Linked DNA regions of Homo sapiens. The protein of the gene in region 1 interacts with the protein of each later gene in a pairwise test. Each region holds a gene or a part of one and is shown in the gene's direction. Other genes may lie near its edges.

Evidence for each region.
Region 2: the proteins of GOLGA2 (region 1) and ZFP2 interact in binary tests that used the Homo sapiens proteins (3 or more experiments, as listed by UniProt).
Region 3: the proteins of GOLGA2 (region 1) and KIFC3 interact in binary tests that used the Homo sapiens proteins (3 or more experiments, as listed by UniProt).
Region 4: the proteins of GOLGA2 (region 1) and PKN1 interact in binary tests that used the Homo sapiens proteins (3 or more experiments, as listed by UniProt).

The regions. Positions count from the first base shown.
Region 1 is NC_000009.12:128,255,329-128,259,007, reverse strand, and holds the end of GOLGA2 (golgin subfamily A member 2), read left to right. Parts: coding exon 1-1; intron 2-437; coding exon 438-553; intron 554-809; coding exon 810-1,028; intron 1,029-1,115; coding exon 1,116-1,218; intron 1,219-1,300; coding exon 1,301-1,407; intron 1,408-1,482; coding exon 1,483-1,639; intron 1,640-1,726; coding exon 1,727-1,941; 3' UTR 1,942-3,179; downstream 3,180-3,679. UniProt on the Homo sapiens protein: Peripheral membrane component of the cis-Golgi stack that acts as a membrane skeleton that maintains the structure of the Golgi apparatus, and as a vesicle thether that facilitates vesicle fusion to the Golgi membrane.
Region 2 is NC_000005.10:178,898,891-178,905,937, forward strand, and holds part of ZFP2 (zinc finger protein ZFP2), read left to right. Parts: intron 1-7,047. UniProt on the Homo sapiens protein: Probable transcription factor involved in neuronal differentiation and/or phenotypic maintenance.
Region 3 is NC_000016.10:57,792,492-57,799,538, reverse strand, and holds part of KIFC3 (kinesin-like protein KIFC3), read left to right. Parts: intron 1-1,256; coding exon of another isoform or gene 1,257-1,295; coding exon 1,296-1,467; exon of another isoform or gene 1,468-1,834; intron 1,835-4,397; coding exon 4,398-4,540; intron 4,541-7,047. UniProt on the Homo sapiens protein: Minus-end microtubule-dependent motor protein. Involved in apically targeted transport. Required for zonula adherens maintenance.
Region 4 is NC_000019.10:14,436,301-14,443,347, forward strand, and holds part of PKN1 (serine/threonine-protein kinase N1), read left to right. Parts: intron 1-3,976; exon of another isoform or gene 3,977-3,990; coding exon of another isoform or gene 3,991-4,029; intron 4,030-4,842; coding exon 4,843-5,143; intron 5,144-7,047. UniProt on the Homo sapiens protein: PKC-related serine/threonine-protein kinase involved in various processes such as regulation of the intermediate filaments of the actin cytoskeleton, cell migration, tumor cell invasion and transcription regulation.

The DNA.
Region 1 (3,679 bases):
GGTACGGGAACCTGCTCACAGGAAGAGGAGAGAGCCCCAGGAAGAAGGGGGGACTGTTAGCAGCGTAGAATTGAGGAGTTGGAAGAGACCTTTAGAACAGCTGGTCATTATGCCAACTGGGTGTCCACACTAAGTTCGGCATCAATATGGTGACTTCCTGGGAGCAGGGCACTACCAGCTTACCTAAGGATGGGTGAACTGGCCCAGGTCAGAAATGAAGCAGGTCAGAACTCCCATGCTGATCGGTAGTGGGACTGCACCTGGGCAGCATAGCGAGCCCTTGGCTCTTAAAAAAGAATAAAATAAAAATAAAGAACAGATGCTTATTTCCCTCTGGGGAGGGGCTGGCCCAGGGTTACACAGTGAGGGTGGGGGCAGAGGTGGGCCCACTGTACCCTTGTTGGGTTGTCTGATGACCCCTCTGGCCACCCCCATAGGAGATGGACTGGACCGGGAGGAGGAGGAGGATGAGGAGGAGGAGGAGGAGGAGGCGGTGGCAGTACCTCAGCCCATGCCAAGCATCCCGGAGGACCTGGAGAGCCGGGAAGCCATGGTGAGGCTGACTCCCCCTCCCCAACCTTTGCTGCCTCCCTCTGTGGTCCCTCCCAGACCCCCTTCTGCTCTTGGTTTCCCGGCCTTCTGATTTCTTCGGACCCTCACCCCTTTCCTGGGAGCCAGTGGTGAGACACCATTTCACTTGGGACCAACAAGTGCACCCTCTGAGGCCCCAAGGGAAGGGCTGCTCTCTACCTCCCTGCCCTGTTCATCCTATATATCCTCCTACAAGAATGCACCCCTCTTGCCTGCAGGTGGCATTTTTCAACTCAGCTGTAGCCAGTGCCGAGGAGGAGCAGGCAAGGCTACGTGGGCAGCTGAAGGAGCAAAGGGTGCGCTGCCGGCGCCTGGCTCACCTGCTGGCCTCGGCCCAGAAGGAGCCTGAGGCAGCAGCCCCAGCCCCAGGGACCGGGGGTGATTCTGTGTGTGGGGAGACCCACCGGGCCCTGCAGGGGGCCATGGAGAAGCTGCAGGTGAATGAGTCTCTCCTGGCATGGGTCAAGAAGGGTGGGGGCGGGGCAGGTCGCTGCCGATATATGACTCCATTATTTTGGTTCCAGAGCCGCTTTATGGAGCTCATGCAGGAGAAGGCAGACCTGAAGGAGAGGGTAGAGGAACTGGAACATCGCTGCATCCAGCTTTCTGGAGAGACAGACACCATTGGTGAGTGGGAGGCCAGGGCACGGCAGGAGGAGCTGCACAGCGGTCGGAGGGAACCCAGCATCTGAGCCCTGTCCTCCCGCAGGAGAGTACATTGCACTGTACCAGAGCCAGAGGGCAGTGCTGAAGGAGCGGCACCGGGAGAAGGAGGAGTACATCAGCAGGCTGGCCCAAGACAAGGAGGAGATGAAGGTAGGGTGTGGAACATCTCTGGGGGTGGAGGTGGGCACGGGCATGGGCATGGCAGCTTAGCACCCCTCCCTCCAGGTGAAGCTGCTGGAGCTGCAGGAGCTGGTCTTACGGCTTGTGGGCGACCGCAACGAGTGGCATGGCAGATTCCTGGCAGCTGCCCAGAACCCTGCTGATGAGCCCACTTCAGGGGCCCCAGCCCCCCAGGAACTTGGGGCTGCCAACCAGCAGGGTGGTGAGTAGAGCCCTCGGGAGGGGTGGGCAGGCAGGAGTAAGGGAGGGCTCGCGTGGCACTCAGAGCCCTGCCTCTCTCTCTCCAAAGATCTTTGCGAGGTGAGCCTCGCCGGCAGTGTGGAGCCTGCCCAAGGAGAGGCCAGGGAGGGTTCTCCCCGTGACAACCCCACTGCACAGCAGATCATGCAGCTGCTTCGTGAGATGCAGAACCCCCGGGAGCGCCCAGGCTTGGGCAGCAACCCCTGCATTCCTTTTTTTTACCGGGCTGACGAGAATGATGAGGTGAAGATCACTGTCATCTAAAAGCCGGCTACTGTCAGCAAAGCCTGAAGAAGTGGGGCTGGATACCCTGCCCCCACCATATCCCTACCATCCCTTCTCAGTCAACCCTTTACCCTTACAGTAGCAAGCATAGACCCCTGTCTAACGGGGGTAGACAGGTGCAGATGAGGTGAAGATCACTGTCATCTAAAAGCTGGCCACTAAATTAAAAAAAAATTAAAAGTTATGGGATTAAAAAAAGTTATGGGATAAAAAAGGTTATGGGTAACTTATGGTATAAAAGTTATGAAAAAAGGCCAGGTGCAGTGGCTCACGCCTGTAATCCCAGCACTTTTGGGAGGCTGAGGTTGGGAGTTCAAGACCAGCCTGGTCAACATGGTGAAACTGTGTCTCTACTAAAAATACAAAAATTAGCCAGGCATGGTGGCACGTGCCTGTAATCCCAGCTACTCGGGAGGCTGAGGCAGGAGAATCGCTTGAACCTGGGAGGTGGAGGTTGCAGTGGGCTGAGATCACGCCATTGCACTCCAGCCTGGGCGACAGAGTGAGACTCTGTCTCAAAAAAAAAAAAAATTATGAAAAAAGTTATGGGATTAAAGAAAGTCAGGATAAAAATTTTAAAAAGCAGGCCACTGTCAGCAAAGCCTGGAGAAGTGGGGCCGGAGGCTCCGCCCCCATCATGTGCCTGCCACCCCTTCCCAGTCATCCCTTTACTCTTACAGTAGCAAATAAGACCCCTGTCTAATGGGGGGAGACAAATGTGTAGACCCTTAGCCACCTTGGCCAGGGCTGACTCCTTAAATTTCTGGATGATGATGATTGTTATTTAATAGCCAGAGGCTCATATAATTGGCCTCTTTGGAAGAGGCCTCATGGCCTCCTTACTCTCACCAAAGCAATTTTTCCCTCAGGGGGGCTCCCATCTTCTTACACAGAGAGGCAGCTGAGGCAGGACAGTGGGGCTAACTGTAGACCAGGCGAGGGCACGGGCTGCTGGGGTGGCCCTGCTTCCCCAGTGTACATATTGTATCTGTGTAACATTTTGTATATTCCAGGGGTAGGGCCGCCCCCTGTATCATACCTAGCAGAGGTTGGAGCTGGCACATGGGGAGGAGGTTCTAATAATTATTTGGGGCTGGGAAACTTATTTATTGATAGCATAGGACAGAGGAAGGAGGCGGGGATGGGGTCGTGGCGCCCTGGTGATGCGACTCCTGTTTATTTTGCTTTTTATTTCGGAATAAATGGATTTAGCCATACTGCTCTGCCTGATGTGTTCCTGTTTCTCTCACTGGGTCCTGGAGTTTGTGCCACTGAACAGGGAGCCCCAGAGTGTCTGAGCATGTGCAGCTGGGCTGTTGGGACCTTCCAGGCTTGTTACCTGTATGCTGCCTGGTGACATCTTGGGGATTACACGGGGACTACCATGGTACCTATGGGGACAGTTTGGCCCCGATGGCCAACAGGCTCAGAAGCCTGATCTAGCGGTGGCCAGGAAGACAGGATGCCAGCACCCAAGGGCACTGACTTCCATCCAGCCCAGGTGTCTTCCATTCTGTCCCCCTGCCTCCCTCGCCTGCCTGAGCCTGGTGGCCTGTTCTGTCTGTCCCTCCAGAATGCCAGCCGCCCTGCCGGCGCCCTCCAGGCTGAGTTAATGGCCCTGCCCCCTAGTGGCCAGAGCCCGCTTCACAGGATGAGAGCCCCCTAAGCTCCAGGGGCTTTCCAGGAAAAATGTCCCTTGGAAAAGATGTGGTCTTTT
Region 2 (7,047 bases), on another chromosome or scaffold:
AGTTATATGCAAGCTGGTGCTGGTGCTTATAGGGCTTATGGGCTCTCAGGGATCATAAAAGAGGGCACATCTGCATGGTATACAGTCATAATTGCACCTGAATATGGTAATAAGAACAAGTGTGGTTAGGGACCCAGTTTATCCGTATTCCAAGCTGGAGTGAAGGGGAGGATCAGGGTGGTGGCCAGGAGAAGTAGGTAGTGTTTGCCCATCTCAGGGGTTGGGAAGGGATAACTGGAGAGGATTTGTTATAAGGGAGTCAGTGTGTCCAGAGTTTAAATCCCAGCTCTACCATTTAATAGCTACATTGTCTTGGCAAGAGGCTTGGCTTTCCTGAAACATTATTTTCTCATGGTCATAATAGGAATTACAGCATTACCTGTCTGCCATATAGGTGACATGAAGAACGTCACCTGGCTGATTTCATTTAATAGTAATAGCTACTTCATAGGTCTGTTGAAAGTTCAAATAAAATAATAAAAGTAAAAAATGCCTGGCATGGCTCCTGGAATGTTGAAGTTATTCAGTAAGTTGTAGGCATTCTTAGTATCATCCCAGCCAAGAGCCTGTGTATAGACTTTTAGAGGTGGACTGAAGGGGGCAGTGACTGATAGTGAGAAATGCTCTGCTGGAGTAGAAGAAATCGGATAAAAATTTTAGGACCAAGTGTCGGGAAGGAGGAGTTTGTGTGTTTGGCAGGGTGGTGGCCATGGGGGTGGAGGTCAGTCTGAGGAATTTTGATAAGGGAGTTCGCACAATCAAAACTTTCCTAGGAAAAAGTAGTGTCCGTGAGATGGAGGGAAGCATGGAGCTGGGATAGTAGGTGAGGATTCCAGGCTTCTCTGAAAAAGAAAATAAGGCATCAGAAGACTTGGCCCTAACTTCTTTTTTTTTTTTAAGGTTAAACTTACTTAGCCTTGTTGTCTGGAATACTGAAGACTTAACGGCATTTTCTCTTCTCATAAAAGTATGTATTAGGGGTCGTTGATTTATTAGGATCACTTGTTTATTTATTAGAGACCAGTTTAAAGAAAGCTTCGTGGAGGCAAGTATAAACTGTTGTGATTTCCATTTGTACTGCTTTCTTCAGTATTATCAAACTCAGTTATAAAAGGCAAAATAACTTTTAAAATGGGGGTATTGGACAAAGGGAGTTTCTGGAAGAGGGAAATGTTGAAAGGGGAAGCATTAAGAAGATTTTGGTTGATGACTGTTGTGGTTTGGTTGTCAGTAACCTACATTTTAATTTATGTAGCCAAAATAGTGTTAATTTTTAAATCAGCTTTTTCTGAGGCACAGTTTAATAAAATAACCCAATTTAAGCATAGAATTCATTGAGTTTTGACAAATTTATGCACCAACATAGCCACCACCTCAGTCAAGGTACAGAACTTTTGCATCACCCCAGCCAGCCAGTGTCCTCGTGCCACTTCTACTCCACGTCCCCCTCCCCAGCCAGACAGTGTCCTCGTGCTACTTCTACTCCACGTCCCCCACCCCAGCCAGCCAGTGTCCTCGTGCCACTTCTACTCCATGTCCCCCACCCCAGCCAGCCAGTGTCCTCGTGCCACTTCTACTCCACGTCCCCCTCCCCAGCCAGACAGTGTCCTCGTGCCACTTCTACTCCACGTCCCCCACCCCAGCCAGCCAGTGTCCTCGTGCCACTTCTACTCCACGTCCCCCTCCCCAGCCAGACAGTGTCCTCGTGCCACTTCTACTCCACGTCCCCCACCCCAGCCAGACAGTGTCCTCGTGCCACTTCTACCCCACGTCCCCCACCCCAGCCAGACAGTGTCCTCGTGCCACTTCTACTCCACGTCCCCCACCCCAGCCAGACAGTGTCCTCGTGCCACTTCTACTCCACGTCCCCCATCCCAGCCAGACAGTGTCCTCGTGCCACTTCTACTCCACGTCCCCCACCCCAGCCAGACAGTGTCCTCGTGCCACTTCTACTCCACGTCCCCCACCCCAGGAAGTCACTGGTTTGATTTCTGTCCCTACAGTATTGCCCTTTGTAGAACTTCATGTCAATGAAATCAAACAGTATATATTATGCCTGGCTTTTTTTGCTCAACGTAATGTTTTTCAGGTCTTTACATGATATTGTGTGTAGTAATAGTTTGTTCCTTTTTGTCTTAAGTAGTACACAGTTGAATATACCACCTTTTGTTCATTCACTTGTGACAGACATTTCAAGTTGTTTCCTGTTTTTAGCTATTATGAATAAAACTGCTCTGTACATTCATGTATGAGTCTTTTTGTGGATATATACTTTAATTTCTCTTGGGTAAATACCTAGGTCAAGTGTACATTTGACTTTGTAACAAACAGCTAAACTGTTTTCCAAAGTATATGTACCATTGTACATTCCCTCCTGCAGTATTTGAGAATTCCAGTCGCTCTACATGCTCTTCCATACTTGGTGTATCCATTTCCAAGAGCTGCTGTAATAAAGTGCCACAAATTGAGTGGCTCGAAACAATAGAAATTTATTGTCTCACAGTTTTGGAGGCCAGAAGTCTGAAATGAAGGCATTTGCAGGGCCTTGCTCTCTGAAACTGGTGGGGGAATCCTTCCTTTACTCTTCCTAGCTTCTAGCTTCTGGTGGTTTGCTGGCACTCTTTGGTGTTCCTTGGTTCATGGCTGCATCGCTCTAATCCTTACCTCCTTTGTCATCTGATGTTATCCTTATGTGTTCATGTCTTCAAATAGCCGTTTTTCTTATAAGGATACCAGTCATATTTGAGACAACCTGTTTTCAGATGAGGTCCTATTGCAAGGTACTAGAAGCTGGGACTTCAACATACCTTTTTTGGGGGACACAGTTCATAACACTAGGTATTATAAGCTTTTTAAATTTTAGTTATTTTCAAGGGTGGAAAATGCATCTTGTGGTTTTTTGGTTTGTTTTTTTTTTAACTTTTATTATGAAATAATTTCAGACTTTAAAAACTGCTGCAAGGCCGGGCACGGTGGCTCATGCCTGTAATCCCAGCACTTTGGGAGGCCACGGCAGGTGGATCACTTGAGGTCAGGAGTTCGAGACCAGCCTGGCCAACATGGTGAAACCCCGTCTCTACTAAAAATACAAAAAATGAACCGGGCGTGGTGGCACACACCTGTAATCCCAGCTACTCAGGAGGCTGAGGTGGGAGAATCGTTGGAACCCAGGAGGCGGAAGTTGCAGTGACGTGAGATCACTCCACTGCACTCCAGCCTGGGAGACAGACTGAGACAACAACAAATGCTGCAAAAATAAAACAATTTCTGGATAGTCTTCATCTAAATTAACATTTTGCCATTTTTCTCTTCCTGTATACACACACATGTTTGTGTATATATATTTCTGAACCATTTGAGAATAAATTACAGACATGCCCATTTCACTCTAAGTGTCCGTGTGTGCTTTCTATTATCATACCTAGCAAAAATACAGTTATCAAAATAAGGAAAACTTACATCGATACAATACTATTAGCCAAACTACAAACCTTACTTGGATTTTGCCACCTGTCCTACAACTGTCCTTTATCTGGTGCAGAATCCAATCCACATCACACATTGTATTTAGCTGTCGTATCTCCTTGGTCTCCTTTTATCTAGAAAAGTTCATTATTGATCTTCAATGACTTGGATACTTTTGAAGAGTACAGGCCAATTATTTCATAGAATGATCCTCAATGTGGGTTTGTTTGATGTTTGCTGATAATTTGATTCAGATTGTGATTAATTAAAATTTGAATGGCTGATACAGTCAGTGTTCAGAATTCAAAAATAAGCATTCACTTAAAATAAATCTTCTTCCTACTCTTGTCTCCAAGCTCCCTATTATCTCTTCTCATAAAAAGGTAATGATTCTCATTTCTTATGTAGCTTTCCAGAGATGACTACAAAAGCCCATAAAAGTATGTATTTTCCCAATTTTTAATCCAGTTGATAACAGATAATATTTACTCAGGAGTCTGCACCTGTTCTATTTTTAGCTATTTTGCATTTCACAATATATCTTGGAGACCTGTCCATATCAGTACATCGGGGCTTCTTTCTTTGATTATGTGGGCATATCATAGTTTAGTTAACCAGTCTGCCTTAAGGGACATTAGTCTAGACACTTGATAGCAGCTGATGACAGGCATTTTGTCACTTTTGTTGCTGCTTCTCTGAATTACTGATGAATCACTTGGAACTGTACAGTAGATGAGAAATGAGTAACTCAGATGTTGAGAAATAAAGTGTAATTGTCAACTAGATGTGTTTATAACCTGTAAATGGAATGCAATTACGAAGTACAGTAATAGACTTGGGACATATCAATGCAACATTAGAGCTGTTTTCCTTTTTTCATCTTTCTCCGTAGTTTCATCTTTCCCATATTGGCCAGTGATGGTAGTATGAATTGTCTAGGTGTTACTTTTATTTGCCTTTAAATTTAATATTTTTTTGAATATAAATATTGGGCATATAGACTAATCATATCTACTATCCCTTTTTAAAAATTTAAAGGCAATGAGAGAGAATTCCAAGTTTCCAACCCTCAGAAACAACTATGATGTACATTCTTCCAGCCTTTTAAAATACCTGTCTACACCCTTTGCCCATTTTTATATTGAGTTATTTACATATAAAAGAGGTCTTTCCTATAAAGTGGATAGTATTCCTTTGCTATACGTTGCCAGTATTCTGTCATGTTTCTTTTAAATTTGTTTATAATATATTTTGCTACAAAAAAGTTTTGAAGTTTTATGCAGTTAAATTTCCTTTCTCTTTACTTGGCTTTGGGATCATGCTATGAAAAGGAGCCTGGCATGGTGGCTCACGCCTGTAATCCCAACACTTTGGGAGGCCGAGGTGGGTGGATCACGAAGTCAAGAGATTGAGACCATCCTGGCCAATACGGTGAAACTCCGTCTCTACTAAAAATACAAAATTACAAAATACAAAAATACAAAAATTAGCTGGGCATGGTGGCACGTGCCTGTAGTCCCAGCTACTGGGGAGGCTGAGGCAGGAGAATCGGTTGAACCCGGGAGGTGAAGGTTGCCGTGAGCCAAGATTGTGCCACTGCACTCTAGCCCGGCAACAGAGTGAGACTCCATCTCCAAAAAAGAAAAAAGAAAAAAAAAAGAAAAGTTTTCTGTACCCCAAGATAATATAAATCTTTTTCTGTGTTTTCTATTAGTTTTATAATTTTAAATTTACATCCTTGTGCTATCTGGAATGTATTGTCTGTGATGTGAAGTAGGGATCTAACTTCATTTAACATGATGTGGTGAAGCATTTCATCCATCCATCCACTCATTAAACATATTTAGCGCTTCTCTGCCATGTGGTGTGCCGTGTTCTGGATACTGGGAGTGTTGCAGTGAGTAAGAGAGGCAAGATCTCCTTCTCTGAGCTCTTATTTTCCACAGGGGATGCAGACAATAAAGAGGAAATGTGGTTGAGGATAGTGTTAGGTGCTGTGATGAGGACGCAGCAGGGGAACATGGTAGAGTGTCACTCAGGGCTGTTTTAGCTCAGCAGAGGAGTGGCCCCTCTCAGGAGATGGCATTGGAGCTGATGTTATCTACTGAAATAATCTGCTCACTCTCCGTGGACTTGAAATGGAACCTTTAAAATATGCCAAATTGTCACATATATATGAAATATATATGAGAGTTTATATTATAATATAGTTTACATATATTTATATATGAGTTTATTTTTAAAATTTATATATATGTTTATTTTTCTGGATTCTATTCCATTGTTCTATTTCTGTTGTAGTACCACACTATTGTATTTGTTGTCTCAGAATTCATTTTGCTTTTTTTTTTTTTTTTTTTTTTGAGAGACAGAGTCTTGCTCTGTCTCCCAGGCTGGAGTGCAATGGCATGATTTTGGCTCACTGCAACCTCTGCCTGCCGGGTTCAAGGCATTCTCTTGCCTCAGCCTCCTCAGTAGCTGGGACTACAGGCACGTGCCACCACGCCTGGCTAACTTTTTGTATTTTTAGTAGAGACGGGGTTTCACCATGCTGGCAGGCTGGTCTCGAACTCCTGACCTCGTGATCTGCCTGCCTCAGCTTCCCAAAGTGCTGGGATTACAGGAGTGAGCCACTGCGCCCGGCCCATTTTGGTATTTCGTAAAGCAACTCTTCCCTCATTTTTCGTTTCAAAAGTTTCGTTACTGTTCTCGTATATTTATCCTTAATAGTCGAATTTTATTATGAAGTTCCAACAGTAATAGTAAAAAAGTAAAATTATGCAGTTCTGATTTGAATTTCAAAGTGTGTAAGTCAGTTTGAGGAAGATTGCCATCTTTACGATGTTTATTCTTCATATTAAGTAAAAAAATGATACTTTATTCTATTCAGATCTTTCATTATGGCCTTTAACTCTTTACAGACCAATCATGAAGATCTTGCATATTTCTCTTAAATGTATTCTTAGGTGTTTCATTTTCTGTTGCTGTTGTAATTGGAGTTTAAATATGATTGTGATTTTGTAAAGAAAAAATGTGGATTGCTCAGTATCATATCTGAAGACACTTTGCTGCTGCAGTGCCTAAAACTTCATCACTATCATATTTTACTTATAAATTATGCTTTCATCATTTATAATGTCCTTATTCTATTTGATATGCAGTTTTTTCAAACAATAACTGTATCAAAAAGCCTTTGTTTTTAGGTTTAAGAAAACCTCTGTATGAGTAAGATAAACCCATGAAGCTCCTTAAACACTATGAGGTATCCTGTACTGAATGTAGTGCTAGGGGGAAAATGACTCATACTAAATGGAAAGGAGGAAAGGAATAAAACATCTTAAGGAATTGATGACAAATGTATATTACTAAGTTCCATGTTCACTTTCTTTTTTTTTTTCTTTTTTCTTTTTTTTGGAGACAAGGCCTGGCTGAATTGCCCAGACTGGACTACAGTGGTGTGATCTCAGCCCACTGCAACCTCTGCCTCCTGAGCTCAAGCCATGTTCCCACCTCAGCCTCCCGAATAGCTGGGACCACAGGTGCACACTACCACGCCCAGCCAATTTTTGTCTTTTTTGTAGA
Region 3 (7,047 bases), on another chromosome or scaffold:
GTGCAGCTGCAGACTGGGTGCAGTGGGGCTGCAAACATGAATGTGTGTGGGCCCATAGTGGGTCAGGGGAGGTGGACACCCTTCAAATAGCTATCTTCACTTCCTGGCAGGAAGTGGCCACTGCAGTGACGGATGGGGAGAGTAGTCGACAGCCCAGGAAGCTCCACTAGGAAGTCCTTCAGTTACCCCCACCTCAATCTTAAAACCCCATGTTGCCTCTCCAAGCTGACTTCGCTTCTTCTGTAAATGACATTACTGTCTGAGTCTGGGACTGTAGCATGATCACCTTAAATGTCCTCAAGGTTGCTTTGCACACAGTAGGTGCTCAATAAAGACTTCTGCAGGGAATACCTGAGCTCTGTTCATTTGTTCAGTTCATGAGGGACCTATCCCTGACTGAAGCTTTCTATCCCTGACCAATGCTCTCTGCCCCCCTCCATTCCCCACACCACCTGGTGCCTGGCTCGCACCTGCCGCCTCCAGTAGCCTGCTCAGACTGTGAGGGTTTTTTTGAAGTGTTTATCTCCCTTCTGACTGGGAGTTTTCAGGCCTCATCTCTTCTGATCCAAAAGGACCCCTGGCAGATGCCTGGCACCCAGTAGGCATTATTAAATGAAGACTGAATGAATCTTTGTATCTCAACACCCATACGGTGCCTGCCACATGCTAGGCACAGAGCGCAGGCTAGTCGAATACATGAATGAGAACTTACTGTATATAGACTTCACTTGTCATTGGCCACAGTCAGGGCCCTTTTGAGTCCCTCCTCAGTGAAATGTTAATATTCAGAGCATTCACTGCTCTGCTGACAGGCCTTAGGCAGAGCAGCCTGAAGCCTAAGGGTTAAGCATGTGGTTAAGTGCAATTAGAAAATTAGATGTCTTGGAGGAAAAGGATTAGACTTACGGAGATGCTGCTGACTCGCGGTGCCTCCTCTGTGTGGGGCTAGGACCTGGCTTGTCCTCAGGCTCCAGGCTCAGCTGGGAAGGGCTCAGGTGTGGGGTCTCAGGCACAGCTGATATGCAACTTTCGCACTTCGGAGCCTCCGTATTCGGAAACAAATACCCCCAAAAGGCAGCAGGCCCCATTTCATCCTGCGAGCCCTAGGGTCTTTGGGGGACAGTGCAGTTGGAGCTGCTGCGCTGGGTAACCAGCGACCGGTGGGGCGTAGACCCTTCCAGATGGCTGGCTCTGCCCGAGGTGCAGTTGTGCTGGTCCACGGTCTTCAAGCTTATCTCCCCTTGTTCTCTCCGCAGGCTGCCTGGTGCCCCGAGGAGGCTGCTGAGCCCCAGGCCATGGTCCCCTCTCGCAGGACGTGGAACCTGGGAGCCACGCCCTCGCTGCGGGGCCTGTGGAGAGTGGGCCGGGCCCCGGAGCCCGAGCCGGGGATGGCTCGCCCCGCCCCAGCCCCAGCCAGCCCGGCCGCCCGCCCTTTCCCACACACCGGCCCGGGGAGGTTGAGAACTGGTGAGTCCGCATTTTTAAAATGCCTCTTTATTTCCCTTCCTTCCTCCAGATACCAGAGATGAGACTGAGGTTTCTCACCGGTTCCTAAGCCCAGTCAGAGCTGTCAGGTAATTACAGGGTAACCGACAGCCCAGAGCCAGGCGGGCGTGGAGCCGGAGCGTCAGTCTCGCCGGGCGCTCCTTCCCTGCGCCCCTGTCTGGAAAAGAGGAGACCTGGAAGCCGGGTTAAACTTTAACACGGGTCGGGCACAGAGCAGGGGGAATCAGCTGCATTCCCTCTGGCCAAGCTGGTCAGAGCTCTGCGGGCTGCCGTCCTTGGCCAAGAGCGTGTGGGCTAGCTCCGGTCTCTGCCCAGGCTGGTAAACAAGGTAGGTGAAGTGGCTGCCTGGGCACCAAGCGCCGCTGACACTTGATCCTGCCTGGGCTGGCCCCTGGACGGCGTTGGGAGTGGACCGAGGCTGCTCGGGAACGTGGCCTGGCGGGGCTTGGGGTCCATGTGCTCATTTCAGGTGCTTCTGTAGAGACCCTGACAGCAGGTGGGCAGAGGTCCCAGAGTCTTGGCCCCCACTGTACCCCCCGGGGAGCTGTCAGTGCCAGCTCGCCTTTCTGGGTCATGTCCCCCGGTGCTGCGAAAGTCAAGAAGTGAGCGGCTTCTCTGATTCAGGGCCGGGACTGGATTGGCGGGGCCGCGGAGCTGTCCATGACCCTCTCCCGAGGCGTGGGCAGGTCGCCCTGGTAGTGTGGGGGAGAGAGGGCTCTCCAGGCAAGGTGCCTTCAGGGGTCTGCTCCCTGTCCCTCGTGACCTACAGGAACAGGGTCTAGACTGCCAGCCTGTGAGAGCTAGCAGAGTCCCTCTGGGCCATCAGGTCCAAGCCCCTTGGTGCACAGAAGGGGAAACTGAGGCCCAGAGAGGGCACACAGCAAACTCCTGTTCACCCCTCTCTCCCACCACATTTGTGCTGTCAGTGGCAGCTGGACTGATGCCTTCCGAGGTCTCTCTGCTTCTATGGTTGTCTGGGGCTGGCTGCTCCCAAGCAGCACAGCCAGGCTGGGGATGACCCAGGGGCCTGGGGAAAAGCCTGGGCTTTTGGGCCAGGTAGCCCAGTTGTCTGAAAGGGGCAGAGGATGGCCTCTACCCCATAAGGTTGTCCTAAGTATTACAAATGTAATATGAATGAGTATTGCTTTTCCGGTAAAACAAAAGCATTTTCCCTTAGAAAACTTAAAACACATAGAAAAATATCAAAAAGGAAATAAAAATCACAAGTTAGTCACTGAACATTTTATGTAGTGCCTTCTAGTCGTGTGTGTCTGTGTGTGTGTGTGCATGCATATAGGTCTTTGAAATATTGTGTTATCTCAGCTTTCTAACCTGAAGGAAAAAATTGGGTATTATGAAGATTATATGACCATACAGACTTTTATCCACTTAAAAAATTTAAGACAAAGGTCAGATGAAATCCTGTGTGTGAAATGCAAGCGCCGTGCCTGCCACTGGGCCTCAGCCAGCTCAGCTGCCCCAGGCCCCTCTGAGTCCCCCGACCAACCCCCATATTGCCACCCTGAGAATTGGCTGGCAGAGGGTTGATTAGCACATGGGATTTGAATCCTGGCTCCCTGTGACCCTGGGCACATTGTTAACCCTTCCAGGCTTCCGGTTCTTTGCCTGTCAGGTGGGGAGAATGCCCCCCACCTCCCTGGGGAGTTTTGAGGAGCTGATGGCTACTGTAGTCCTATTGGCCTGTACTGTGGGCCCTTTCTGTGTGCCTGGCACTACATGGGCACCACGTGTATTTCATCCCATTTGATCCTTATCACAGGGCTGTGAAGTTGTCCCCATTTTATTGACAAGCAAACTGAGGACCAAGAAGGTGTGTAAAGGCTGGGTGCTGTGGCTCACGCCTGTAATCCTAGCACTTTGGGAGGCCAAGGCGGGCAGATCACTTGAGGTTAGGAGTTCAAGACCAGCCTGGCCAACATGGTGAAACTCTGTGTCTGCTAAAAATACAAAAATTAGTTGGGCTGGTGGTGCGCACCTGTAATCCCAGCTACTCGGGAGGCTGAGGTATAAGAATTGCTTGAACCCGGGAGGTGGAGGTTGCAGTGAGCCAAGATCGCACCACTGCACTCCAGCCTGGGCAACAGAGAGAGGCCCTGTCTCAAAAAAAAAAAAAAAAAAAAAAAAAAACAAAAAAGCCCAAAAAAACAGAATGTGTGTAAGGCCTGAAAAGCACTTGGCCCAGTGGCTGGCACTCGGGATATTGTTACGCCCCAGGGTAGTGGCTCTGCAGTGTGCCTCATGACTCGTGAGGCTGGCCCCCATCCCACCCTGTTCAGCCCTGCAGGTGGAGGTGGGTGGCTGGGGCATTGCTGCCACAGCCCGCCCTCTCTCCCATGGGTGAGGGAGGCGGTGTGTCAGAGGCACAAGGGGATGCACGTTAGCTGGTTCTGAATACGCTTGGGGAGGCAACGGAGGCTGGGCCACCTGGTTTGGATTTTGTCTTAATGAAGTCAGGGAAGAAATTGCCACCTAGAGGCAGCCGGGGTAATAAAGCCATAGCCCCTGTGCAAGTCCTCAAAGCTTCATGCAGGCTGGCTGGCAATGGCTTCCTTCCACTTCCCTGCTGAGCAGATGCCTGCCCCAAAAGCCACTGTGGGGATAGGGGAGCCTCCGGTGGGGTATTGGGCCCCTTCCAGAAGAGAATCTTTGGGCGGCTTTTGGTAAGGAAGGAGCGTAGCCACTGCCCCGAGCCAGGCCTTCCCCTCTGCAGGGCAGGCGTTTTTTGGGTGTGTGAGCCCCTCCTGGCCACATCTGGACCAGCCAGGGATGTGTGAAAGCTGAGCTCAGCTGCGGCCCTGGCCAGTGGTCCATGGCTAGCAGTCTTTGGCCAGTGGTCGGAGTGTCTCACCTATCTCTCTGTCCTGGGACAGGGCGTGGAAAAGATACCCCAGTCTGCGGTGACGAGGACTCCAGTGCCCGAAGTGCAGCTCGCCCAGCCCTAGCTCAGTGCCGAGCCCTTAGCGTGGACTGGGCTGGCCCCGGAAGCCCCCACGGGCTCTACCTGACCCTGCAGGTAAGCACTGGGGCCTTCCAGGCTGCATGTGCCTTGGCTCTCTGAGCTCCAGTGGCTGGGTTCCTGCCAGGCTTCTGGGGGTAGGAAGCACCTGGGGAGAGCCGGGGACCCACCTCGCACCTCTCTGTTGGGCCCCTCATGACCCCTCTGCCTGGGAGCCTGCTTTATTAAGTCAGACGGGAAATCTCATAGGAGCTGACAGGAGCTTTTCAGCCATGCCCTGGCTGAGGTGTTAAAATGGGAAGCATGGGGCCTTAGCTGAGATGGGCAGAGCTTGGAGAAGGTATTGGGAAAACAGGCAGGTTTGGGGTGGTTGATTATTCTGAAACATGGTTATGTGAGTATTTCCTTGTATTTCCTTGGGAATATTTCCTTGTTTGAAGTGAGAATTCAAAGCTAGATGGAGGATTCACTAAAACTTGGGGTCTTCTCCCTTGCAGTTATCACCAAGTGACTTTAAAATGACAAAGTAAGGCTAGGCGCGGTGGCTCAGGCCTGTAATCTCACCACTTTGGGAGGCTGAGATAGGAGGATCGCTTGAGCCCAGGAGTTCACGACCAGCCTGGACAATATAGTGAGACCCTATCTCTACAAAAAGAAAAATAAAAAATTAGCTGGGCATGGTGGTTCCTATAGTCCCAGCTACTCAGGAGGCTGGGGTGGGAGGATCGCTTGAGCCCAGGAGGTTGAGGCTGCAGTGATTGCACCACTGCACTCCAGCCTGCGTGACAGAGTGAGACCCTGTCTCAAAAAAAAAAAAAGAAAAGAAAAAAGATAAACTTTACATATGTATGTATATTTGGCTATAGAAATAATACATAACGATAATAGTAATAAGAGCTACTGTTTATCAAACATGGACTCTGTGCCAGGCATTAAAAGATCTCATGTTAGTCCTCATCATACTCATAACAATCTCAGGATACAGTATTTGATCTGAGCTTTATAGATGAGGATGTGGAGGCTCAGAGAGGTTAAGTTACTCGCTGCTGGTCACATATTCGACCATTCAACACAACTAGCCTTGTAACAGGGCAGAGATACAGTTATCCAGAAACTGCCTCTCTTAGTCCTCTATCTTTGAGAAATCCACTATTAAGTATTTGGTGTTTATTTGTTTATCTTTCCTATATAGAACCACTTAATTAAATTTATATGATTTTTATTTTTGAGATGGAGTCTCGTTCACTCTGTTGCCCAGGCTGGAGTGCAGTGGCGTGATCTTGGCTGTAATATCCGCCTCCCGGGTTCAAGTGATTCTCCTACCTCAGCCTCCTGAGTAGCTGGGATTACAGGTGTGCATCATCACACCTGGCTAATTTTTATATTTTTAGTAGAGATAAGGTTTCACCATTTCACCATGTTGGCCAGGCTGGTCTTGAACTCTTTTTTTGTTTTTTTTTTTTGAGACAGAGTCTCGCTCTGTCGCCCAGGCTGGAGTGCAATGGCATGATCTCAGCTCACTGCAGCCTCCGCCTCCCGGATTCCAGTGATTCTCCTGTCTCAGCCTCCCAAGTAGCTGGGATTACAGGCGTGTGCCACCGTGCCCAGCTAATGTTTGTATTTTTAGTAGAGACAGGGTTTCATCATGTTGGCCAGGCTGGTCTTGAACTCCTAACCTCGAGTGATCTGCCCGCCCCAGCCTCCCAAAGTGCTGGGATTACAGGTGTGAGCCAGTGCACCCAGCCATATTTATATGATTTTTTTTTTTTTGAGACAGAGTCTCACTCTGTTGCCCAGGTTGGAGTGCAGTGGCATGATTGCAGCCCACTGCAACCTTCACCTCCCAGGTTCAAGCGATTCTCATGCCTCAGCCTCCCGAATAGCTGGACTACAGGCATGTGCCACCACACCTGGCTAATTTTTGTATTTTTAGTAGAGATGGGGTTTCACCATGTTGGCCAGGCTGGTCTTGAACTCCTTACCTCAAGTGATCTACCCGCCTCAACCTCCCAAAGTGCTGGGATTACAGGCATGAGCCACAGTTCCCAGTGCATATTTATATGATTTTTATTATTTATTTTACATGTTATTCTGTCACTAGCTCTTTCCCTCAAGTAAGTCCTGGTAATCTCTTCATGCTCATCAACACATAGAGAACTACCCTTTTTTTTTTTTTTTTTTTTTTTTTTTGAGCAAGGTCTGGCTCTGTTGCCCAGGCTGGAATGCAGTGGTAGAATCTCACTGCAACCTCCAGCCAAGTCATCTCACCTCAGCCTCCTGAGTAGCTGGGACTACTGGCATGTGCCACCACACCTGGCTAATTTTTGTAATTTTTGTAGAGACGGAGGTTTCATCATGTTGCCCAGGCTGGTCCCGAACTTGTGGGCTCTGCCTTGGCTTCCCAAAGTGCTGGGATTACAGATGTGAGCCATTACGCCCGGCCCTACCTCTTTCTTTTACACGGCTGCGTAATAGTCTACTTCAGGGCTTACCATAAATTATTTATAACAGATCCTCTGTATTGTTTCTGATTGCAGTGAGCTCCTTAAACAAATATCTGTGCT
Region 4 (7,047 bases), on another chromosome or scaffold:
GTGCAGTGGCTTGATCTCGGCTTACTGCAAATTCTGCCTCCTGGGTTCACGCCATTCTCCTGCCTCAGCCTCCCAAGTAGCTGGGACTACAAACGCCCGCCACCATGCCCGGCTGATTTTTTTGTGTTTTTAGTAGAGACAGGGTTTCACCTTGTTAGCCAGGATGGTCTAGATCTCCTGACCTCGTGATCTGCCTGCCTCGGCCTCCCAAAGTGGTGGGATTATAGGCATGAGCCACCGCGCCTGGCCTCTTTTTTTCTTTTTTGAGACAAAGCCTGGCTCTGTTGGCCAGGCTGGAGTGTGATGGTGTGATCTCGGCTCACTGGAACCTCTGCCTCCTGGGCTCAAGCCAGCTTCCCACCTCAGGCTCCCAAGTAGTTGAGACTGCAGGCACATGCCATCACACCTGGCTAATTCTTACATTTTTTGTAGAGATGGGGTCTCACCGTTATTGCCCAGGCTGGTCTCGAACTCCTGAGCTCAAGCAGTCCTCCGGCCTTGGCCTCCTAAAGTGCTAGGATCACAGGCAGAGAGAGCCACCACACCTGGCCAATACTTTTTTATTTTTTGTAGAGATTTTTGTAGGTCTTGCTGTGTTGCCCAGACTTATCTCCAATTCCTGACCTCAAGCACTGCTCCTGCCTCAGCCTCCCAAAGCGCTGGGATTACAGACGTGAACCACCACACCTGGCCAAATCTATGACCCTTAACCGTAGGCTTCTCAGCCTTAGCACTACTGACATTCAGGGCTGGGTCATTCTTTGCAGTAGAGGCTGTCCTGTGCACTGCAGGGCGTTGAGTGGCATCCCTGGCCTCACCCTGATAGAAGTCACCTCCTTACCCACAGTCAGGACAACCAAAAATGTCTCCGGATGTTGCCGCATGTCCCCGGGTATGGGGAGAAAATCTCCCCTCAATGGAAAACTGTTACTGGCCAGGCACAGTGCCTCACACTTGTAATCCCAGAACTTTGGGAGGCCGAGGCTGGCTGATTGCTTGAAGTCAGGAGTTTGAGACCAGCCTGGCCAACATGTGAAACCCCGTCTCTACTAAAAATACAAAACATTAGCTAGGCGCAGTGGCACGTGCCTGTAGTCCCAACTACTCAGGAGGCTGAGGCAGGGGAATTGCTTGAACCCGGAAGGTGGAGATTGCAGTGAGCCGAGATTGCACCACTGCACTCCAGCCTAGGCGAAAGAGCAAGACTCTGTCTCAAACCAACGAACAAAACATACTACTGTGACTTCCTTGAGCCTCAGTTTCCTCACCTGTGAAGTGGGGAGTTCTTGGCAGCTGCTCAAGATTTGTAGTGAGGGTTGGGAAGATGGTGGGAGTGATACACTTGGTCTGTGGCATTCCTCCCTGGGGGCAGCTGCGCTTGAGATCAGTCACGAGCCAAGGATAACATTCCTTGTCTGTGAAATGGATGCTCCCAGCTGAAGGAGATAACCCCAGGGGGCCATTTCCTAGCCAGCATTTGGAATCTGGGTGCTCTTGTTTTAAATCAAGGCCCTGGCCACGGGGCAGTGACTCACACCTGTAATCCCAGCACTTTTGGAGGCCGAGGCAGGAGGATTACTTGAGGCCAAGAGTTCGAGATCAGCCTGGGCAACATAGTGAGACCCCATGTCTATGAAAAATACAAAAATTAGCCAGGTGTGGTGGCGTATGCCTGTAGTCCCAGCTGCTCGGGAGGCTGAGCTGGGAGGACTGTTTGAGCCCAGGAGGTAGACACTGCAGGGAGCCATGATCACACCACTGCACTCCAGCCTGGGCAACAGAGTAAGACCCTGTCTCAAAAAAAAGAAAAAAAGTTACATGAGATATTCAACTTTACTGTAAAATAGCTTTGTGTTAGACGTTTTTGCCCAACTATAGGCTTGGGTAAGTGTTCTGAGCACATTTAAGGTAGGCCAGGGTGAGCTATGATGTTTGGTAGGTAAGATATATTAAATGCATTTTTGACTTATGATATTTGCAACTTATGATGAGCTTATCAGGAAGTAATGCCATCATAAGTTGTTCTTGAATGTTACTGTGTGCTTAGCAAGTGGTTTTGTAGGCTGCTGATTTGGGGCATTCTTTTTTTTTTTTTTTTTTTTTGAGATAGAGTCTCACTCTGTCGCCCAGGCTGGAGTGCAGTGGTGTGATCTCGACTCACTGCAATCTCCACCTCCTGGGTTCAAGCGATTCTCATGCTTAGCCTCCCAAGCAGCTGGGATTACAAGCACGTGCCACCATGCCTGGCTAATTTTCATATTTTTAGTAGAGACGGGGTTTCATCATGTTGGCCAGGCTGGTCTTGAACTCCTGACCTCACGTGATCTGCCTCGCTCATCCTCCCAAAGTGCTGGGATTACAGATGTGAGCCACCACGCCCGGCGTGATTTTGGAAATTGGAAATTCTTTTTTTTTTTGAGACGGAGTTTCGCTCTGGCGTGCAATGGCACGATCTTGGCTCACCTCGACCTCTGCCTCCTGGGTTCAAGTGATTCTGCTTCAGCCTCCCAAGTAGCTGGGATTATAGGCATGCACCACCAAACCCGACTAATTTTGTATTTTTTTTTTTTTTTCAGTAGAGACGGGGTTTCTCCATGTTGGTCAGGCTGGTCTCGACCTCCCGACCTCAGGTGATCCACCCACCTCGGCCTCCCAAAATGCTGGGATTATAGGCGTGAGGCACCGTGCCCGGCCTGGTTTTGGAAATTCTTATCCCAGTCCCCCAGTGCTGTCCCCTAATTGTGTTGGCCTGAGGGAGGTGCCACTGGGCTGGCTGGGACCCCGGGCCTCTCAGCTATGGTCAATAACAGTTGGCGACTGGACTGAGAGGAAGCAGGAAGTTGGGAGGGCCCGTCTGCAGGAAAGGGGCCTCACCTCTGAAGAAGTGGCTGTTCTGACCCTGAAGGGGAAGCCGGGGACAAGGGGTGGCTGGGAGAGTCTGGAGGGACATATGCAGGTAGTCGCAGGGCTGGAGGTCTGTGGGAGCATGGATGTGCTGCAGGGGCCTCGGGGAGCGTGCATATGTGTGTGAGCATGTGCACACGCATGAGCATGTGGGCCATGCCCTCTCGGGCAGGTGGGAGTGTGTCTTGTATGGGTTCTAGAGGGAAGCTCATAAGCACTTGTATGTGTTTGCAAATAAGTGCATATGTGGTAGGCATGGGAATGGGTACACTGTGAGCCCATTTTCCAGGCACACACCTGCAGGTGTAGAAGTGTGCACCTGTGTGTGGATCTTTGTTTCATCCACACACACAGGCATGGGAGTGTGCACACATGTGAGCCTGTGTTGCAGGCACACACCTGCAGCCATAACTGTGCAAACACAGGCCAGGCGCGGTAGCTCACGTCCAGTAATCCCAGCACTTTGGGAGGCTGAGGGGGGCGGATCACCTGAGGTCAGGAGTTCGAGACCAGCCTGGCCAACATGGTGAAACCCTGTCTCTACTAAAAATACAAAAATTAGCTGGGCGTGGCGGCACATGCCTGTAATCCCAGCTACTTGGGAGGCTGAGGCAAGAGAATTGCTTGAACCTGGGAGGCGGAGGTTGCAGTGAGCCAAGATCACACCAGTGCACTCCAGCCTGGGCAACACAAAGGGAGACTCTGTCTCAAAAAAAAAAAAAAAAAAAAAAAAAGGAAAGAAAAAGAAAGCGTGCAAACATTTGTGAGCCTGTGTTCTGTGCATATCCACATATGTATTTGAAAGTTAGTGCACACTCAAGTCAGCCCTCGGAGCCTGCGTCCCCTCATGGATACACCATGAGTGTGTGAATGTACAAACTGCCTGCACCTTGGACATTCTCTAGGGACAGGGAGCAAGGACTGTCCCTGGGTTTCATCTAGAGGAACAGGAGGTCCCTTAGATGCCCTGGAGTTGGCCCCGCGCGAGGGGTGCTGGGAGTTGACAGGAAAGAGGAAGTGGCAGCCGAGAGGCCCTGGTGGGGCTGAGGTTCAGGAAGAGGGCGGGGCCCTCAGCCCGGACCCAGGATGGCGGAGGCCAATAACCCCTCGGAGCAGGAGCTGGAGGTGGGGTCCAGGGTCCCTGTGGGGGCAGGCAGAAGGGGGCCCCAAGTGGCACAGGCCAGTAGTCCTTCCCCGGGTACTTCTCAGTTTGGGAACAAGGAGAGGAGATGGGGCACTGGCCTCAGAGTTCTCTCTCTGGAGGATGAGAGTATCCAGTGCCCTTCGGGGCTCCCAGATTGGGGAGAGACAGAAGGAAGGAGACCGGGCTCTGTTCTTTAGGGTCCCAGTTGTTGAACATAGGAGAAGAGCAGATGAGGGTCTTCAAGACCCCATAGTTTGGGGGTACAGCAGAGAGAAGACTTGGCCTGCCCTTGGGATACCCTAGTTTTGGGGGTGTAGCCAAGGAAAGATGAGGCCTGCCCTCGGGATGCCATAGTTTCAGGGTACAAGTGAGGGAAGATGGGGCCTGTCCTCAGGACCCTGTAGTTTTAGGGGTACAGCAGAGAGAAGACAGGGCCTGCCCTTGGGCCCTCTTAGTTTCGGGGAGCAGCAGAGAAAAGAAGGAATCTTCCCTTGGGACCCTCTAGTTTGGGGGAGGCAGCAGAAGGGAGACAGATCTTATTCTTGAGACCCCCTTAATGTGGGGGACGCTGTGGTGGTGGGGGTGACAAGGCCCTGCTCTTGAGACCTCCCAGTTTGGGGAGGTCAGGAAGCAGTGGCAAGGCCTCGTCACCTTCCAGTTTTGGGAGTCAGAGGAGGTAGAGCAGGCCCTGTCTTGGGAGCCCCAGTCCAGGGCAGAGGCTGGGCCAGGCTGGCTGCATGTGGTCTGCACCTGGAGTTCTCCTAGCTCCACTGACCCTGTTCTGTCCTCCGCAGAGTGAGCCTCGCAGCTGGTCCCTGCTAGAGCAGCTGGGCCTGGCCGGGGCAGACCTGGCGGCCCCCGGGGTACAGCAGCAGCTGGAGCTGGAGCGGGAGCGGCTGCGGCGGGAAATCCGCAAGGAGCTGAAGCTGAAGGAGGGTGCTGAGAACCTGCGGCGGGCCACCACTGACCTGGGCCGCAGCCTGGGCCCCGTAGAGCTGCTGCTGCGGGGCTCCTCGCGCCGCCTCGACCTGCTGCACCAGCAGCTGCAGGAGCTGCACGCCCACGTGGTGCTTCCCGACCCGGCGGCCACCCACGGTGAGCTGGGATGCCTCTGGGGATGCGGGACTCCAGGGATTCCACTGCTCACTGGCTCACCCATGGTCTCCAGAGCCAGGTTAACCCATCTCCACGGACCCCCAGGGAGATGCATGCCATGACCCCCGTAGCCACCAACACCCAGAGAGGTGCATACAGCCACACCAGCACCCGGTAACACTCAAGACCGTGCATGCTGTCACATGAATACCTCTAGACACAGCCACGCCAACACCCAGGCAACATTCAAGGATGTGCATGCAGTCACACAAACACCTAAAAAAACAGCCACACCAACACCCAGGCAACACCCAAGGGTGCACATACTGTCACACGAATACCTCCAGACACAGCCACGCCAACACCCCAGGCAACACTCAAGGATGTGCACACTGTCACACGAATACCCAGAAACTCCCACAGTTACATGGATGATAACCAAAGACTGTTTATTTTTGTTTTTGTTTGGAGACAGGATCTTGCCTTGTCACCCAGGCTGGAGTACAGTGGTGTGATCAAAGCTCACTATAGCCTCAATTTCCTGGGCTCAAACAATCCTCCCACCTCAGCCTTCCAAGTAGCTGGGACTAAAGGCATACACCACCATGCCTGGCTAATTTAATTTTTTTTTTTTTTTTTTTTTTTGTAGAGAAAGGGTCTTGGTATGCCGCCAGGGCTTGGCTAGAACTCCTGGCTTCAAGTGATCCTCCTGCTTTGGCCTCCCAAATGCTGGGAATACAGGCGTGAGCCATTGCACCCAGCCTGTTTTTTAATTTAAAACATTTTTATTGGTTTTAACATTTTTTTTCTTTTTGAGATGGAGTCTTGCTCCATCACCCAGGCTGGAGAGCAGTGGTGCAATCTCAGCTCACTGCAACCTCCACCTCCCAGGTTCAAGTGATTCTCCTGCCTCAGCCTCCTGAGTAGCTGGGACTATAGGCTTGCACCACCACGCCCGGCTAATGTTTGTATTTTTAGTAGAGATGGGATTTCACCATGTTGGCCAGGCTGGTCTCAAACTCCTGACCTCAACTGATCCACCCACCTCAGGTGATGTGCCTCCCAGAATGCTGGGATTACAGGTGTGAGCCACCTCACTCAGCAGCTTGAATTTTTTTTGGTGGGGAAGGACAGAGTTTTGCTCTTGTCACCCAGGCTGAAGTGCAATAGCACGATCTCGGCTCACTGCAACCTCCACCTCCCAGGTTCAAGTGATTTTCCTGCTCCAGCCTCCCAAGTAGCTGGGATTATAGGCATGAGCCACCACGCCTGGCTAATTTTTGCATTTTTAGTAGAGACGGGATTTTGCCATGTTGGCCAGGGTGGTATTTAACTCCTGACTTCAAGCAATCCGCCTGCCTCGGCCTCCCAAAGTGCTGGGATTATAGGTGTGAGCCACTGCGCCCGGCCTCAGTCATTTCTGCACCCAGGGTCCCCTCAAGCATCACACCACTCTCCAGAGACTCATGCAGACACATGCATCCGGATGTGCCAACACCCGGAGACTCAGTCATACCAACCTGGAGATCTGAACTCACAGTTGTAGCAACAGTCAGAGATGTACGCAGAGCATCTCCCAACACCCACAATCTCAGACAGTCATTCTAACACATGGCGTCTCACAGAGTTACACTAACACCTAGGGAAACACACACTCAGCCATGCCAACACCCTGCAGCTCACAGATGGCACCACTCCCACACCCATAGGCTCACACAAGCCATGTACGTAGTTACTCATGGGCCTCTCAAATGCAGTGGACCCAGCACCAAGGACACACTAACACACCTGGGTGCTCGCCTGCACTCATTCATCCTGGGTTCTGCCCCAGCCCCGAGGGGTTTCCCTGGGAGGGTGGGTGGGTAGACTGCTGGGCCCTGGTGTCCCCCTGCCTGCCTGTCTGC